Linked DNA regions of Homo sapiens: region 2 is linked to region 1. A link means that fine-mapping ties the variant in region 1 to the expression of a gene that starts in the linked region. Tissue or cell type: monocytes. Region 1 holds a variant in brackets; the other region holds the start of a gene. All regions are shown on one strand. Distances are from middle to middle.

Region 1 (5,149 bases):
ATAACTTAGTAAAAGGATAATGGTTACAACAGTTAACTGTAAATAATAAAGCAATCATATAAATCACAACAGAAAAACATAGTCTCATTACCTCAATTTTTCTAAGATATACCCTACATATAAATTATTTGCTTTCATTCATTTCTTATAAATAAAAATTTGTAAACAGATCACTGTCACCATTAGCAGCAAACCAAGTTGGTTAAGACAGTTACTAAATTTCGTACGAATGAGAAAATGAGAAAAATCAAGAAGATAACTAACCCCATACCTGTTCCAATGTGTTGGGAAGGTTTTGTTGGATGCATGGCACCATGACAAACATTTTGTTGAACATTACTCTGTGAATGTATAAGGCCAGTTTGTGTAAAGAACTGATTAAGAGAAGAACAAAGATCGGCAAACTGAACCTGGTCTAAAGACCAGTTCTTGAGATCTGCCTGTCTCATACTCTCCATCAGACCTATGAGGAAAGCATTAAAAATATGTTAGCACTGTTATGCAATAAACATTGCAAGGAAAATAGCAAGACATAATTTTTTTCAGCTCTCAAAATTTCCACTCACTCCACTTTATGGTAGTGATTTATCCACGCAATGAAGAATGACCTTTTTAAATTATTCAAAGCCCAATTATTTTAAATGTGGTCAAATTTCTTTCAGAACTTGTCTGTGACCCTCTGCTATACCAAGTGGCCAAAATTATTATGAATTTTACCAACTGCAAAAGAAATGCTATATAAGATGATGTTTATTTCTACTACAAAGAAAGTTATAATCTAGCAGAGAAACAGGATCATGTGTATTTGGTTATATGTCAAAAAGAACCAACACTCACCTTGAAACTGTGAAAGGTCTACATCTGACCAATTAACACTGCTGGCAATTCGACAGCTTTCTTTTAGCATATCAAGTGTCGCATACCAATCATTTGAAACACCTATAAAATATTGACAACAGTGTAATTCCTGGATGGTGAAAGGGTGAAGTGTGGTAAGGGAAAACGATGAGCTGCCCTTATTCCTGAAATTGGCTGATTCTTGTCCCGTCTTACAAGGGGATTTGTACCCATTATATCACGTGTTGGGCAATCTGCTCTGTGAGACAGGCAGAAAGGTATTATTTCTCTCCATTTTACAAATAAAAGAAACTGAACCAGAGAAGTGACATAACTTAGCAAGGTTATCATGATGAATCTAAGACTTGAACCCAGGTCTTCTAACCTCCAGTCTAGCAGTTTCCAAATTGCCACATCACCTAGTAATATCAAACTTGATACTGCTCTTTACATTACAGTACCAATAAATGAACAGATAGGAAATGCCACACAAATCTGTATTTTCCCCTATATAAAGTTCATTTTCCTGTCTTCTTATGACCTTAAAAAACTCAAGAGAGGCAGGTTCACATTTAGAGGCAACACATAGTACAATTTAATGCAATGACTTAACGCAGGTGGATTAGATCATATAGTAAGAGTAAATGCTTCTTCCAAGGCAACCTTAGGAGAAAAAAATTTAACATAGTCCCCCTGCCAAGGTAGCGAAGGAAGAAGGGTGAGATCTCTGCAAGAAATGCTGATGAATCCACGTCAGGGCATTTTTAGTCAGAAATGGTATCCTCTGGTATGACATCAGAAGAGTTTAAGACTCCATAATCTGTATGTCAGCAAACCAGTCATTAGTCAGAGGCCATGCAGCAAGAGTTACCTTCAATGAGACAGCAGTGCTGAATAGTGGAAGAAAATTCTTCATTTCAGTGACTGCTGTCAAGCCACTGTTTCTAGGACCTCCCCCGGATGGATGAAGATAAAGACCAATAAAAAGGGCTGGTTGGTTTGCTTTTGCTACATCAAGGCAACTCTTGGCTATATCAACTACTGGCTACTTGATTACAAAATTCTGCCAATAATGGATTTTTAAAATAAACAATCAACTAGAGACAACATGACCCTGCCATGAAGCAAGTCGTAACTTAGGAAGAAATTTGTTAGGTGGGAGGGGATTAAACTAATATCCAAATGAGCCACGAACATGCAAGTCTACCAGACTCAGATCCTTTAGTTCAAGAAGAACTTCATGGATAAGGAAACCAAGGTTCAAAGGAATTATATGATTTAAGTCACTTAGGTAATACAACAGCCAAAGCAGTACTAGAATCCAGATCTCTTGAGGTAAACACAACTCAGGTAGTCAAAAGGTCAGGGTAGGAAAAAGGTTAACTGAAATGAAATTATGAGCAGGAACCAGGACATTTGCCATGACTAATTTGTTGTTGTTGTTGTGGGTAAGAGGAAGAGGAGGCTCCTTTAATAAATAGTGACCTGGCAAATAAAAATAAAGCAAACTCTGCAGCGACTGGGTGAGCAAACCCTACCCACTTAGCAAATGTCTGCTAATTTTAGTTCTTTTAGAATAACTGGTGTTATAAGCTTTGAAGTCAGACATGTCAGAATATAAACCCCAGTTCTACCACTTACCACAGTATGATCTTAAGCAAATTACTTAAAATTCTTTTAGTTGCACTTTTCCTATATATAAAATGTGGTCATCTATACTTGATTTGGCAGGATAATGTAAGATAATGTATCTAAATTATAAACAAGAGTTAAAATAAAAACCTGCAAGGGTTGCTGGGTTTGCCTATGTTGCCACAATAAATTTTAATCAAGAAAGTCGCCAGGTCAGTCTATGAATTAAATGAGTTACAACTATAGGATTATAGCAAGGAAACAGATGTAAAGAGGTTTTGGTAGTAAATACTACATGAGCTCTAAATAACAAAGGACAGATCCTAATTCACAGTTAGCCAAACACAAACCAGGAGACAAAAACTTACCAGAATTACAGGATACCTGTTGTGGGGGTGGGGGTGCCTGATGTGTTAACGTCTGATGCTGATGGTTCGGATGGTGCTGTATGTGTTGATGTGGAGAGGGATGCTGGGGGTGAGGGGACTGGAGCTGGCTGTGTTGCTGTGGGTGTGGTGCTGGGTGTGGGGAACGCTGCGGATGCTGCGGTAAACCATGCGGTCGATGGGGAGGATGTGGAGATGGCTGTG[T/G]GTGCATCTGGGGGTGAGACAGTGAGACCTGTGCAACCGAATTACTGCCTGTGGTGTTGAGGCCACTGCCATGACTGTTGGACAGGCTGCTTTGGTTGCTGTGTGGGTGAGTGCTCACTGTACTGCTGGGAGAGTGCTGATAGGTACATGAAGTGTGGGACTGCTGGGAAGATTCAGAAGGGATGTTCATCAAACCTAAAAACAAAGCAAGATCATTTATGGTCAGATTTCAGTTGTATTTTATGACAAACATTTGTAAAATTATTAACATAACAAAAGCATATGATGCCAGGAAGCAACACTGGTTCAATTTAATAAGTGTTAATCCAACATCCACTGCACACTAGGCTCTGTGGTTATTGAGAAGAAATATAATGCCCCACCCTCAAGTGGAAGAGAAAGACAAGATTATGACCAACAATTTAAGTACTAAAGCTAAAGTATACAGAGGATTATGAAAACTGCTCCTTGTCTGTTCAGCTAGGAGAAGGCTGAAAATATAGAGAAGCCTTTCTTTTAAAGACAGTGCCTGAACTGAGTCTTGAAAGATAAGGAAATGTTCGGGGAAAAGTGGGAAAGGTGTGGGGGTCACACTCAGGATGGCTCTCTGTAGGCATAAAGACCAAGGCTTTGATAGAAGACCGCACAATCTAAACTAAATCTCGACTGGCTAATAGTTTAAAACTTTTCCAAATAGGTAAAAGTAATGGAAAGACAAAGGAAAAGAGGAAGTTGTTTATGCCAAATAGGGAAGGGGCATAGGCTGCAAGCTGGAACATGCCTGTGAGCACGTCCAGCACAAATATCTCAGTTAAGGTACAAGGACATAGAATGTACTACGTGCCTGTGAGCATGTTTAACAGCTACACAGGATAGGGCCCAACAAAAAGTTATTAGCATAAAGTAAGGAGGCTTAAAGGAAGTTAGTTTTTAAAAGAAACTATTATTTCTAACACTTATGATTTACTCTTTAACAAGAAGGGAAACTATGAAGAGGAACTTTTTACTTTCTACATAGTGAAGGTGTAAGCTGCAGGATGAGCTCTGTAAATGTTAGCTGCCATGATGATGATTAAGCCAAAAATGTTTAATGTTAAGGATAATTTATGTTTGTTCTCCAAGTAGTTAGATAACCTTACTGCAACATTTGGTTCTATGTAACTAGACTATTTTCAAATCCTAAAGGGTAGCCCATGCAATGTTATGCTGAACCAAACATAAAAATAATTTTATTGAATGAAAAAAAAAAACACAAGATAATATCAATCAATAAAAGAATCAAGCTTTTTAAAAAAGATAAAATTATTCTATTTGTCATTAGTAGTAAAACTGTATTTGTGTTCATTGCAAGATAATCTTAAAAGCTACCAAGTTTTACAGGCAGAAGAGTTAATAAAAGTTCTTGCCTTGGTCCTAGAAAATAGTCACATATAAGGAATCTATAGGGTTATTACTGTAAGATCAAAGAAAGCAGTAATTTATCAATTTTCAATAAAATCCTAGCATTTTACAAGGGAACCAAGGTCTGATCTGTATCAACATTTTCAATCTCAAATTATTTTTAAATAAAAGAAAGCAAAATATCTCTCCAGAAGCCCAATATATAAAACTGATAAGTATAATATAGTTTTTTTTTTTGAAGCTGGGGAAGGAAGCTTACTAGGTCTACCTCTGCATCTGCACAGTTCTCCTCCTGCAGTCCCTAAGATCTTTACAAAAGCCAAGGCCTCTGAAGAGAACAATCTGAAAATCACTGATCTAATCCAACCCTCTTTATTGTACAAATGGGGATACTGAGGTCCAGAGATGAGAAGTAAACTCAGTTGACTTAATGGCAGAACCTGGACTAGAACCCAGACTTCCTATCGATGTTCCTTTTTTTTTTTTTTTTAATAGTGTGATGGAATGGAATTATGGGCTTCAGAAATTGTCATCATTGTTATTTCAAAGCCCTTATTTTTCTATTGTGAATACCAAGGTTGGATTTGCTTAGCAAAGTCTTCCATTAGTTCTTTTTATACTTTTATAGATGAAAAATTTAAAAGTTGGAAAACATATGAATCTTACTTTAAACTCAAATACTAACCAGA
Region 2 (5,149 bases), 140 kb after region 1:
ACCGTTCATTGTATATGGGAATAATTACATGCATAAGGTTAAGCAACTTGCCCAAAGTCCCTTCTGATTTTAATACCTTATTATGAAGATTTAATGAATTAAACAAACGTAGGCGCTTAGAATACCTGTCATACAGTAAGTAAATGTTAGCTATTATTTTATTCCTACAACCACTATCTTATATCAGACCCTCATCAGCTTATTCCTAAAATTCTCCATAAGCACTCTAATCAGTCTCTCCACTCCCAGGACACTCAGCTGAAACAAAAACCTTCCTCAGGAACAAGATGCATCATCTTACTCTCATTCTTTAGAACCCATTGTGGTACCCTATCAAACTAAACCCTCTATCCTTGAAAGATCCTCCATCAATACCCCCTCACCAATCCTAAACTCATTTATTATTATTCACCAACACAGATGATCTGACAGTCAAGCTCCTTGATATCATTTGTACATTGCCACTTCTCTCGCTTTGCACAGGCCCCTTCACTCTCCTGAAATACACCTCTTTCCCTTTGGAAATTTGTATCTTTCTCAAATGTCCCTTACACTTTTGACCTTGGTTGTACTGTTATCCCAAGGAGAAGTTTGATGCAGTTTGATAATTCTGAATGATGTACATGTTTCCCGAACAGAAAAAGAAACTCTGTTCTTTCGATATAAGTTGAAGCTTTCCAAGAGACCACGTATCTTATTCGTCTCTTCATACAGACTTCACACATAGATAACTCGGTACTTTACAGAAGTACACAAATGCTGACTTACCAAAAAAAAACAAAAAGCCTCAGTATGTATCAGAACAACATTCTCCATTTTCCACTGCCCCACCCATACTTAGCATAATGAAAAAATATAATCTAAAATCTATATTTAAATATTTTCATTCTACATAGAAGGAAAGGGAATATACGAACTGTACCAGATAAAAGGAAAAAAATGTCAAAAATATACTCAAAGAATGTACAATGTGAAAAAGTGAGAATGCAGGCCACTTTGGAATCTAGTAAGTGACTTTGAAACATTAAGTTTTTTTATTTTACCCAAACTAATGAACAAAAAAGAGCCAAAATAAACACGTTCTAGCCTCATCCAAAAAAAATCTAATGAAAGCATGAGAAACTTCCCAGTTTTGTCCTCGGCAGCACAAAACCAAGAAGATTCACCTCAATTCTGAGACACAAAAGCAAAAAGAGAAATCCTCCTATTTATCTAAGAAACTAAAAAACTTAATCACGTCTATATAATATATACCACTCAGAAAAAGAGAGGAGTTACTGCTTTTCTATAAATATTTGCTAGGGACCAGGAGGAATAGGCTTCTCTCACTGTTATTGCGGGAACAATCTGTGGTCTCAAAACAGCAAAACAGAAGATGGAAACCCTAATCTGGAAGAGACATTAAGAAAAAAACTACTCAAACCATGTTTCAAACCAGTTTCAAAAAAAGAGTGTGCAATGGGTACTCAACAGAGTAAGAGGAAAAGTGAAGTAAAAGAGCTTCTACAAAATAAGTGACTAGGTGAAACTAGTGCTGCCTTGTGAGAAAAAGAGCTATGCATATAACGCTCCTATGACATCACGCTTTTTCACTGGGAAACAAAATAGAAGGAAGAAAACACACACAAATAAATCTCAGAAAAAGACCAAAAAGGTGCCCACCAATCTCTAACTCCTTCAGGAATTAGAGTGAATGGCTCTAACTCATTCAGGAATCCAACCAGGGACAACACAGACGTGGAATGCACCAACACGGAATAGTAAAACCTTTGCTAACCAGACACACAAAAAGTAAAACAGAGAAATGAAAACTATACACCTGAATGCATCGGTAGCAAGCGCTTATTCTCTATAATTAAGCAACAGAGAAAAGAATAAGAGCAGCTAATGGAAGAGGAAAAAAGATGTTAATGAAACTAAGCCCTGTTATGTCCCCTACTGGCCTCAATTTCAGAGTACAACTCTCGATTCTTCATCTAACCAACAGCCGGCCTCGGCAAAGCAAACTGACCCTAACACCTTCCACGCCACCCGGAGGAAATCACAGAGGAAAAACCATCCCGTTAACCTCCCTCCTCACCAGCTGCAAAAATGGAGCTGGGAGGGGGGGCGGGAGACACTCTACCACGTGGGCAGGATGCAACACACACAGGACAGCAACACGTCCGCATGGAACGGCTGCCTTTGCCCTAATCCCAGCAAAGGACACAGACACAGGATGGGCGGGAACGCAAGCACCCTCGCATGGGCCTCCTCTCCCCAAAGGGCCACTCCAAGGCGTGAGGTACAGCCCGCCCTGCCGGCAGAAAAGCGCCCCCAAGCTTAAAGGGAAGAAGCCGCAGAGTGCCGGGGTCGGGGGCTAGCCCAGGCCAAGGGACAGGTCATGGAGGGAAGGAGACGGTCGCTGCCCTCGGACTAGGCGCCCCCGGGATCCACGTCTGGTTCCCCGGTGCCCCGCCTGGGGGAGGGGCGGGAGACGCGAAGCCGCTGCTTCCCAGCTGAGGGGCAGCAGCAGCTGAGAAGCGCCGCGGGGGAGGGAAGGACCCAGCCCTCGGCGTCCGCCAGGCCCCAGCCGGGGCCCAGGCCCCCTGCCCCACCCGCCGCCCACCCCGCAACGCGGCTGCGGCTGGAAGAGAGAGGGCGTCTCGCGGAGGACAGCCCCTGCCTCCGTCCCGGGAGATGCCACAGCCCCGCCTCCTCGCCCGCCGCCCAGGCCCGGCCGCCCTGGCGGGGGGCACTTACCTCAGGCTGCGCAGGCCGGGACGGCCCGGCCGAGCCCCCGGCCGCTCCGTGCGTCTCCGCCCCCCCGGGAAAGGTCCCAACGGTGCCTACTGCGAGCGGTCGAGGCCCCGAGCAGCCCCGAGAGCGGCGGCGGCAGCAAGAGCAGCCAACATCCGGGGCCGCGCACCCGGAACTACTTCCCGACCCGCATCCCCCGCCCGCCCTCGCCGCCACCGCCTCCTGCGGCGTCGCTGCGCCGCCGGCCCGGCGTCAGCGGCGTCAAGTCCCTGCGCGGTCACGGTCGCTTCGACGCACGCAGGATCCCTCCGCTGGGACAAGTAGTGCCCTGAGACTCCCGAGGCTCTGCATCGGCGCAGCCGGTGTCATCTAGCGGCCGGCAGTTCCGAGCGACTTGGGGTCCTTGTGCCTCGGAGTGGCGTCTGGGAGCAAAGGCGGCGGAGGCAACCCCGCAGTTGAGGACAGTAGGGATCGGTGGCTTTGGACCCTGCCCACGGATACCTGGGGCCCCATGCCCCGAAGGAATGGTGCCTTCTGCCCTCCCCCGCCCCCCAACATCCGCCACCTCACCGAAGCGCCCGGCACCTTAGCCTCCTCTCCAGGAAAGCGGACGCCTTTTCCGACCTGGCACACCGCGGATTCCGGGACCCCCAACAAAGGCGCCTTGGACCTTCAGGACACCCCTCTTTTCAGAACTTCATGAGTCCCAGGTGCTAGACTCATGTCTGCGGAGGCCTTTCCCGTGCCTGGTCTTTCTTTCTTTCTTAAAGGAGTTGGACCTCTAAAGGCCCTTCTAATTCTCAAGGTAGCTACCCAGGTTATGGTACTACTATCAGTAGGTGGAGCGTTTAGAAGGGTAGTTTGGTCGACGAGTGAACTTTGGAATTTACTTCTACGTCAGTCTTCACTGATTCTTTCTCTAAACTATTAGCACTGATAATCTGCCCTATAATTTCACACTTAATTACATTCCAGTGTAGTATTTGCTGTTGCTTCATTCGCGTTAGTCACATATTCCCCTGCAGCGCCAAACACGCTTTTGAACTCACAATGGGTGGCTCAATATTTGGAGACTTAGATATTTGTTAGATGAATACTAGGCTGATTGGATGAGAGGAAAAGGAGAGGCATGAGTGAATTGGCCCTGGGTACTTTTTTGACATAGTCTCAAAGGGTTCAGATAAAGACCTCCAGCAGATCTGAGCACACAATTCCTTCAGTAAACATTGAACACCTGCCGTTTGGTCAAGCATTTCTAGGCACTGGAGATTCAAAGTATTCACATATTCCTTTTCTTTATAAGACTAGCAAGATTCTGAAGATTCATGTACTCATTCACTCAACAAATATTTGCCAATCACTACTAAGGTTGCCAGACACTATTTTAGTGCTTGGGATGTATCAGTAAACAGAAGAGAGAGAGAAAACAAATACCCTTCCCTGTTGGAGCTTTCATTCTAATATAAGGAGAAAGATGATAAATGTAAGAGAATTATGTAATATGTTAGAAGGCATATGGGGAAAAAAAAATACACCAGGGTAAGGGGTATGAGGAAAACTGGAGGAAGGGGGTTTGCAATTTTTTTTTAAGAGGGAATCCTGCTCTCCCGCCCAGGCTGGAGTGCAGTGGCGCGATCTCAGCTCACTGCAACTCCCGGGTTCAAGTGATTCTCCTGCCTCAGCCTCCTAAGTAGCTGGGATTACAGGCGCGCGCTACCACACCCGGCTAATTTTTGTATTTTTAGTAGAGATGGGGTTTCACCATGTTGGCCAGGCTGGTCTCAAACTCCCGAACTCAAAAGTGATCCGCGCTCTTCGGCCTCCCAAAGTGCTGGCATTACAGGCCTGAGCCACCGCGCCTGGCCTGCAATTTTAAATAGAGCCGTCAGCATGGGCCTCATTTATAAAATGACTTTAAATCGGAGACCTGAAAGAGCTGAGGGAGTCAGCCATGCAGTTGTCTGGGGAAGAGTGTCCCAGGCAGAAGGAACAGCTAGCTGGTGGAAAGGCCTGGAGACAAAAGCCTCGGGAAGTGTTAAAAATAATGAGAAGGCCAGGACGGTTGGAGCCGTGAGCAAATGGGAGCCTAATGAGGAGATAAGATCAGAGAGAGGGGTCTCAAGTAGGGAGCTGTAGGAATCTTGGCTGAAACAGAACCACTGCTGGGCTTTGAACAGAGGAGTGATAGGATCTGACTCGTGCTTTCAAAAGATCACTCTGGCCGCCGTGCTAAGAGCAGAACTAAGAGGACAATGGTGGAAGCCAGAGGCTCCATTACCCAGGTACAGAATGATGGCTTGAACTAGATAGTAGCAATGAGTAAGATAAATAAGATGCAGTCTCAGCCGGGCACAGTGGCGCTTGACTGTAATCCCAGTTATTAAGGAGGCTGAGGCAGGAGGATAGGATC

Alleles and levels. Positions count from the first base shown, and alleles are read on the strand shown. Sizes are in standard deviations (SD) of each study's normalised expression.
With allele T in place of G in region 1, the expression in monocytes of the gene that starts at base 2,919 in region 2 is higher (moderate effect, 0.41 SD a copy in BLUEPRINT).

What was found. PIP is the estimated chance that this variant, and not a neighbour inherited with it, causes the effect.
Region 2: FOXJ3 starts here. The variant in region 1 is fine-mapped to the expression of FOXJ3 in monocytes (BLUEPRINT, PIP 0.91).

Annotation. Positions count from the first base shown.
Region 1 is chr1:42,188,466-42,193,614 of GRCh38, forward strand. FOXJ3 (forkhead box J3) reads right to left here. Exons shown (of 13, transcript NM_014947.5): 9 at 2,838-3,254; 10 at 838-939; 11 at 272-463. Among named protein-coding and RNA genes, the nearest start is that of GUCA2A, 26 kb to the left of the region's middle. The variant T/G (reference allele first, on the strand shown) is at 3,060.
Region 2 is chr1:42,332,317-42,337,465 of GRCh38, forward strand. It overlaps FOXJ3 (forkhead box J3), which reads right to left and starts at 2,919. Exons shown (of 13, transcript NM_014947.5): 1 at 2,743-2,919. RefSeq lists an enhancer at 1,894-2,851 and a silencer at 2,436-2,955.